Linked DNA regions of Homo sapiens: region 1 is reported to be linked to region 2. Evidence: microRNA targets listed by miRTarBase, many of them from high-throughput screens and not tested one by one. Region 2 holds a microRNA gene; the other region holds the end of a gene's coding sequence.
The links. Region 2 holds the annotated microRNA hsa-miR-494-3p (UGAAACAUACACGGGAAACCUC, at 1,508-1,529, opposite strand). A microRNA usually pairs through its seed, bases 2 to 8, with sites in the 3' UTR of a target mRNA and lowers its output. Matches are read on the target gene's strand: a 7mer-m8 pairs with bases 2 to 8, a 7mer-A1 pairs with bases 2 to 7 and ends in A, and an 8mer does both.

Region 1: the mRNA of TMLHE is a reported target of hsa-miR-494-3p. Seed matches in the 3' UTR shown: 7mer-m8 at 2,531-2,537.

The regions. Positions count from the first base shown.
Region 1 is chrX:155,487,756-155,491,755 of GRCh38, reverse strand. It overlaps TMLHE (trimethyllysine hydroxylase, epsilon), which reads left to right. Exons shown (of 8, transcript NM_018196.4): 8 at 90-2,745. The coding sequence ends at 221. It overlaps TMLHE-AS1 (TMLHE antisense RNA 1), which reads right to left. Exons shown (of 4, transcript NR_039991.1): 3 at 2,367-2,464. Among named protein-coding and RNA genes, the nearest start is that of TMLHE-AS1, 23 kb to the right of the region's middle.
Region 2 is chr14:101,026,684-101,031,209 of GRCh38, reverse strand. MIR494 (microRNA 494) reads right to left here and starts at 1,576; the gene lies at 1,496-1,576. It overlaps LOC124903407 (mucin-2-like), which reads right to left. Exons shown (of 5, transcript XM_047432049.1): 5 at 1-4,526. It overlaps MIR329-2 (microRNA 329-2), which reads right to left and starts at 4,110; the gene lies at 4,027-4,110. MIR1193 (microRNA 1193) reads right to left here and starts at 1,158; the gene lies at 1,081-1,158. It also overlaps MIR329-1.

The DNA.
Region 1 (4,000 bases), not on the chromosome of region 2:
GATCTCTTCTGACTTAGGGTTCCTTTGGTCTGTCCTTCTTCTGACAGTGTTTTCTCTCTCTTTTTTTTTTTTTTTTGGCCCATTCACAGGTCCTATTTATAGACAACTGGCGTGTCCTACATGGCAGGGAATGCTTCACTGGCTACCGCCAACTGTGTGGCTGCTATTTAACAAGAGATGATGTATTAAACACTGCTCGCCTCTTGGGGCTTCAGGCTTAAAATTGACAGCATCTGGATTATGAATACACCTGGCACCCTGGCTACCAGAATTTCATATGGGCAGAATAATATTGTGTCAAACTCTACTTCAGATTGTCTCCTTATCCCATCCCACAAAACAGAATCTGTCCGTTTCTCTAGTAAGGGAGACTTGTTGGAGAGGCGGGACTCTGAGTTATCTAATGTCAGACATCTAGTGGGGCAGCTCTCTTCCTCATGTTATAACATGGATCCACTTGTTTGATTTAAACCTTTTAATATAATTTTGGTCAGTCTCCTTCAGAAATATAATCTCCATATTGATAGGAAAGCAATAATTGCCATGAGGTAACGATTTTTTTCCCAAGTAGATCAGTTAGAAAGAAATGCATTCTAGAAATAACAAAAATCCTGATAAAGCAACAATTTGCAAAATGTTTGGTCTTAGGACACCTTAACACTCTTAAAAGTTATTGAAGGCCCCAAGGAGTTCTTGGGTGTGGGTTCTATCTATTGATACTAATTATTTTAGGTATTAAGACTGAGAAATATTTAAAGCTCAAGAAGAACACAGAAGCACACATCCCTCAGCTATGAGAGAGATGACATAACCATATGTCATGTAGCCTCTGGAAAAGTCCTCTGTATCCTCATGAGATAACGAGAGGGGGAAAAAAAGCTACTACTGCCTTTGTAACTTCCACTTAGCCTACTACAGGGCTATGCACATCTTAGTTTCCAAAAGTCTGCTTAATTTCAAAAGAAAAATGCCTAATTGAATGTAACTCATCTTGGTGTTATTATACAAAATAATTTTTAATCTGCAGACCCACGAAAAGGGTCTCAGGGACTCCTCCAGGGGTCTTCAGACCATACTTTGAGAACCCATGGGCTAGCGACTACCTTGAGACAGTCCTTTACCTAGGCCTGTGGATTAAAGGGTTTAGCTGAAACCCTAGATTCTTCTCTGTAGTCTAATAGAACTCCAAACATTGTAAGAATTGCTTGGTAGCATAAGCTCAGGGATAAGGTGGGAATTGAGTTCAAATATAGTGTTTTATCTTCCACACAAATCATCTCTATAGGAGTTAAATTAGGAAGTCACAACAGCGCCTGTTGAACAAACTCATCAGTGTGGTAATCCTATGAGGGATAATTGCAGAAAGGTTTTAGAGACTTGTGAGGTTCCATATGATAATTCTTTACACCTCCCCCCCCAAGAGAAAGTACACAGGGCTATTCTGTAATATTGTTCAGGGAAATCAGCATGATAGATGCTGTGCCTCCAGAGAGTTCTCTGGAGATTACTACCCAAATGTGTATTTTGGCAATTTGGTGGTATTTAGGATGTAATATGTTTTCCTCCATTTCTGCTAATTTTCTCTCTCTCTCTCTCATAACATACTATACATGCTAATTGCCAAGATTTGAATGAGTCAAATTTAGTAGCTTGCTGCTTTTATTTTTTAAATGGCTTCTTTTACGTATTGGCGGGGGCGGGTGGGGGGCAGGGTATGAGGCTTCTTTTCCCTCAGCTTTCATTGAAAGTGAAGCTGTACAATAACCACATTGACCACTGTAGAATGATGAAAGAGAATATAGGCTAGGATGCACACAAGAGGGGGGAAAAGGCATTATTAGTGAAGATAGGAGTTACAAAGCAAAGCAAAGTCAGTATTCAGATAGAGAATAGAGCCTAATCTGATGTTTGCAGGGAGTTCCTAGATCACATTTGGCAATTTACACATTATTTTATTGACCTATCCAGTGCTCCAAAATGTGTTCCAAAATATTTTGGCATTTTATTTGTACTACATAGGAATCTTTAGGGGAGTCCCTGAAATTTGTTTTCCTCTTAGGTCAAAGGACTGATAATTAACTTTGGTTCTTAAGGAGTATGCCCTTTAGCAATAAGAACAGCAATAACATTTTACCCTGCAGTTTTTTCTCTATACCTACTATTATGCACTCCTAAAATATGTCATCATTAGTCTTCATGAGGATGTTTACCATTTCTGAAGTTTTGCGTAAATTAGCCTTGAAGATTACACTATAACTGAGGTCATCAGCATTGACTTATGGCCAGCAAAGGACATGCTCATGGCCCTGGAGAGATGAGGACACAAAACAAATCAATTTCCCCACTTACTGAAGGACTCCCCTTACCTTCTGTCTCTCCTGAGACCTTGACTCATTAATTATTTTACTCTCCTTTTTGGAAATTTGCAACCGGTCCTTCTCAACAATGTGCTCCCTTTAGTACACTGAAGAAAAAGAGAAGGGGATTATTTGAGTCCTGATCACGATGCATTGAAAACTTCCTATGTGAGATGTTTCTGTTTTTATATCTCTTCCAGGTGTCCCTGAGTATATAAGCATGGGTCTATGTCTACCAAGCTCACTGTAGAGTCACTTTTACCTTTTGCTATGGTGGAATGGGATCTGTAGGGTCAGGAACACAGCACCTAACACAGTGCCTTATGGATAGTAGTTTTATAATACAGATGTGTTGGAAGAATAAATGAATGGGTCCTTTTCAAACAAATTCACCAGAAGTTACCACATTCTCTGTATGTATGTCCTTTTTCGTTTGGCATTTAGCTGACACTGACTTTTGTTTGCTTTCATCTAGAGTGACCAACCATCCTCTTGTGCCCAGAACTACAGGACTTTCCATTTTAAAAGTAGGAGAGTCCCACACAAACCAGGACTGTTGGTCAGTCACCGTACCTTCTTGCTGCTAGATATGTAATTTTCTTTGGTTTTCATCACCGGTTCCCATTTCTTTGAAAGTGTTTGTAGGTCACACACTGTGTAGTCCATGATGAAAAGAACAAAAGATGTATGAATTATGGTGTGTTGTGGTGGTTCCCAAAGTAGGGTCCCCAGACCACCAGCAGTGGCATCATTTGAGAACTCCTTAGAAATGCAAATTTTCAAGGCCCACCCCACGCCTACTAAGTAAGAAACTCTAGGCATGGGTACCAGCAGTTTGTTTTAGCAAGTCCTCTGCAGGATTGTAACACATGACAAAGTTTGAGAACTACTGACAGGAAGAGTCCTGCTGCTGAGTTCTAGGCCCAGTTCTGTCACTGGCTCACTAAATGACTTCAGGCATGTCCCTCTCCTATTTTGAACTTCAGTTTTCTCTTCTGTGAAATGAAAGCCTTGGACTAGGCAGCGTCTAAAGGCTCTGTCACTCCGTAATTGTGTGACTTTGGTAACTTTGTTTGACTTCTCCTTGCTTAAGTTTTCTCATATGGGTATGGTAAGGAAAATACCTACCTCACAGGATTTTCTAACAATTTTGTGATTATTAAGTATGATGACTGATGACTAATATATGACAGCCAGCTCTTACACAGTGCTTTCTATATCCTGGACTGTTGTAAGTGCTTTTAATCCCCGCAACAATCCCATCTCCATTTTACAAATGAAAAATAGAGGTCACACGGCTAATACGTGTCAGAGTTTGGATTAAAACCCAGAAAAATCTGTCCCCAGAGACAATGATTTTAACTAGCATGCCCTTTTGCTCAATAAATGTTAATTCCCTCACCCTTTCCACACACACACAGTCTAGCTGACCATTCATAGACAATAATCCCACTTTCACAGTCCATCCAACAAGATCTTAAAAGAACCATGAGAATCTCTAGGTTTCTTTTGCAAATAGTTTTCAAGCATTTAAAAAAAAAAGGTGGGGGGCGGGGAGGGAGTGGCCAAGATGGCTGACTAGAAGCAGCTAGGGTGAGTGGTTCTCATGGAGGGGAAGGAAAGGGGCGAGTAAATACAGCGCC
Region 2 (4,526 bases):
ATAGCAGTTCCCAGCCTTGGCCTTAAGGAGTTTCTGCGTTTCTAATTACTTTCTTGTGCCTCTGCCGTAGCCATGGGAGCATACCAAGGCCGGGGTGAGAGCTGTGGGTCCCAACTTCAGCCCTCAGGGCAGGCCTTCTCTCCACAAGCCATCCTAGGTATGGGAGGGAGACTGAGGATGAACGGACCAAGACACACACCCGAAATAGAATGTCTGCTCTCAGACAAGATGTCCACTCCCATACCTCTCCATGGACCTGACGCCAACAGCCCTCCCCTGAAGCGCGTGTCACAGCCGGGACACATCTTCCGCAGTCTGACACTGAGGGCATCCAGGGCATCTGGGGCCTCGTAAGGCAAGCAGAGCTGAACAACAGACAGAGATGAGCAACGGCAACAAAGCCCTTTCCCCAAGCATGGACTGAACGCTGCCCACGAAGCGGCTGGATTCTGAGTGGTCCCAACACAGGAAGGGCTCATCTCAATCACGCTGCCAGCTCCTCAGTCCCCCATCCACGACTCACCAGGAGTGCTGCTGACACCAGTGGCCCTGCCGGAATCTAGCTTCATGTCCAGGAAGTCCTCCTATGGAAAAGAGATGGGCCACGTAGCATTCATCAAACACATGGCAAGCTTTGTCAGACAGCCTCTCTTCATGTAGCACAGAATAAAGTGGCCCTCACTACCACAGCTGTCCCAACGCCTGCCCTGTCCTGCACACACACAACACTCCTCAAACCCTTCCGAGGATAAACCACACCCCTGTACCAGGTCACACACACACCTCCTGCAGTCAGCATGTGGTGTGGGGTGGGACTTTCCCTGATGGGGCACTGAAGCCCAGGCCTCTGCAATCCTGGCATTGTCTGTGGCCAGACTATCAGCCCTCCTGGGCAGGATTTGAAACCAAAAGAGAGATTATTCACTGATGATTGCTTATATTGATTTTAACGAGGTAGGAGGAGGGGGCCCCGAAGGGAAACCCCTCCTAAAATCCTGCAGAGTCCCACGGGCCCCACGTCCTCCCACATCTTCTCCGAAGTTGCCATGTGCACCAAGATGTCATCCCACAGATGGACCGGGCGCTGGTGGATAGTCAAACGGGTGACCTACATCGTAAATGAAGTGCACGTCACCGGTCTACCATCCCCTCAGCTACCCTGGAGAGCAGATGGCACCATCGTCCCTTCAATGACGTTGCTAGCGTGTCCAGAAGGCCATCCAAGCAAGATCTCACACTGAAGAGGCGCCACCCACCGTGAATCAACAAATAGACAAACACCACAATGAGCAACCTCCTTCAACCACAGAAGCACAGGCCCTTCTCCAAACTCAGCTTCCCCTCCTAGGGGCCCTCCATGGCTGGGGCCTGAGAGCCACACCCCCACGACGCATGGCACGCTGTCAGCCTCGCTTGCGCCTACCGAGAGTGGAGCCGGCAACGTCCCTCCCTGAAGGCTGCATCAGGAACAGGAAGTGCCTCCAGGGTGGGATTTGATACTAAAAAAGAGGTTTCCCGTGTATGTTTCATCATAAATAAAGAGAAGACAACACGGACAACCTCTCCTTCGAGTATCGAAGATTAGCACTGATCAAAAAACAAACAAAAAAAATCAAAACAGAACTGCCGAATCTTCGCCGATGTTGGTGTCACCTCCAGGAAGATTCCCCGAATCTACATGGCACTGGGTAGACCAGACGTCAGATGGCTTCTATTTGCGTGTCCCAGGTTGCTTTTGGGAAGTCAGCCAAAAGCTCTTCAAGCCTTCACAATGAAAAGAGGTTGCCCGGGAAACATTTTCCGCCAATACAGAGAACACTTTAGGTACAACCTCTTTCCAGGTATTGGAGCTTTCCTGACGGTGGAACCAGGGTTTCCTTGTGGAAGTCCAGGCCACGGGAAGTGCCCCTAGTCATAATGGTTTGCATCCCAAAGTCAGTGCGTCAAGAGAGCTCATGAGTAAATCTCGAATTCTGTGGTCAAGAAGCAGGTGGCTGGGTCTGCAGTTAGCCGGTGCCCAGGCCCCTGTGTGGCACTGGCCATGGGTCCAAGCAGCCTTCCAGGCAAGGTGTGATTCCAAAAACAGATACATGGCACCGAGGAAGCTGTAAGCAAAGTGAGTGCCTGCTACACACGGCTAGGGAGGGAGGGTCGGGGAAGCCAGGAGCACCGCCAGGCCACCTTCCTCCAGGTCAAATCCCACTTAATGCCTTCTGCTGCCTTCAATCCAATTCAGCAGAATCAAGAAATAAAAACGAATCTCATTTCCTGATGTGAGCTCCCCAAATGTTTTAGCCAATTCTGGGCCGGATTTTCTGTTTGCTATAAAACTCCTTTGACAATAATTGTTTTCATGGTGGGGGGAGTACTGTTATCTCCAGACTCTTTTGCATCTCAACAGAGAGTTAGATCAATCCTGACAGGGCTGGGGAGAATCAGGGGTCAGAAAACTTCAGGTTTCCTCTTACAAAGTTGTAAAATTGTGCCCTCTTTTCCCCCGAAGGTGGACCCCGGAGCAGAGGTCTGAGAAGAAAATCCCAGGGCCAGGCTGCGGCTCTGCACCCTTGCCACCTGTCCTTTGACCCCTCCGTAGCCAGCAGAGCACCCAATCTACATGGACCCAGCAGCCGCCTACCCTGGATACCCCGGAGGCAACAGCATACTGCCTGCTGTCACATGGCCTTGACACACTCTCTCTGCCCTCTCTTTATGAGGGCTCTTTTCGGCTGGAAGGAACGGTGTTTGGGTATCAGCTAATAGGAAGGATTGGTGGCGGAGGTCATTGGTGCTACCTCATATGTTCTCTCTGGTTATAAAAAGCAGGGTTGACATGGAAATACCTGGCCCTTCTCCAGAACCTGAGGCCCTCCTCCCTCACAGTCCCATCCCCAAATGCCACAGATGAGCCGAGGACCCACAGTCACAGCTAAGTGCCATCAAAACAAATGCAGCACCAGCAAAACCTACTTCTGTGCCTTGGCTTTAGAGCTGGCAGGGAGCCTTTTCCTTCCCCAGAGGCTGGCATCACCTCCAGGAAGTCCTCCTGGAAAGGATCGGGCACCAAGCATTACTGCCAGACAGGACGCTTAGAACAGGGGAAGCACCCATCTCGGCCCACTCACCCTGGCCTGGGCCTGACAACTGTCTTATCCGGAAGCCTTCCAAACTGGTGTTTGATACTGAAGAGTGGTCCACAGAAATGATTTATATAAAAGAAACAGATATGCCAAAGGAAACCTCTCCTTGAGCACCCCAAAGAAGGACCATCTGCAGAAACACAACCCTGAGGGTAGGTCAGATGTGCTGGTCAGTGGAGCAGGTGTGTTCCTGGGGAGGTACATGCCCCGTGGTGGGCCATCCACTCCCTTCCCCTGGATCAGGGCTGGTGACAATGCCCTCCCTTCAAGCTGGCATGACATCAAGGATTCCTCCAGATTTAAAGGAAGTCAACTCCACAATTCCTGTGAGAAATAAACAGGTCTCAACCTGGGCCAATTCCAGGGCCCCCAAGGTCTCCTCTTGACCTCAGAATCAGCTTTTCTTCCCTAAGGTGTCATTATATCCAGGACATCCTTTCAGAATAAACTGCAGGCTAGGGGCAGGCGTGCAGGACACCTGCACTATCTGTCCAGGGCATGCTGGCATTCCCCTGCTGTGGGCTGGGCTCATTCAAGCCCATCACTGAGTGTGGCAAGGACGAGGCATCCCCCTACAGCAGGGTCAGATGCCGAAAGAGCCTGAATTACACACACGATCCGTTGGGAGCACAACGAAGGCAACCACAGACAACTCACCTGCATGTTCCGTGACACTGTCGTGGTGACACTGTCTTCCCCCAGGCTGCCATCACATTGAAAAGTCCTCCTAAGAAGGGATAAGACATTGAGGGTTAGCGCAATCGGTGGCAAAATTCAGAAACATGGGGCACGCTTAGTGATCAGCCATTTGCTCGTGTCTCCTTATTTATGTCCACAGCACCCCTTCCCTGAAGCTGAGGTCTGGACCAGAAGGCCTCCAAGATGGGATTTGATACTGGAAAAGAGGTTAACCAGGTGTGTTTCGTCCTCAATAAAGAAACAGAAACCCAGAAAACCTCTCTTCAGGTACCACCAAGTAACACTGACAAGAACACCACTGATTCCTTCCCCAAACTTGACATTCAGTCCTGGAAGTCCTGTTAAATACGGATTGGACACTGGGGTTAGTAGAACAGATGACATCAGTCAAAATAATACAGCACAGGCTTCGTGGTTAACCATAGATTTCTGTCCAGTGGACTGGAGCTGAGAGTAACGCCCTTCCCTGAAGCTGAGGTCTGGACCAGAAGGCCTCCAAGATGGGATTTGATACTGGAAAAGAGGTTAACCAGGTGTGTTTCGTCCTCATTAAAGAAACAGAAACCCAGAAAACCTCTCTTCAGGTACCACTGATTAACACTGACAAGAACACCACTGATTCTTCCCCAGACTTGACATTCAGTGCTGGAAGTCCTGTTAAATATGGAATTGCACACTGAGCGTTAGTTA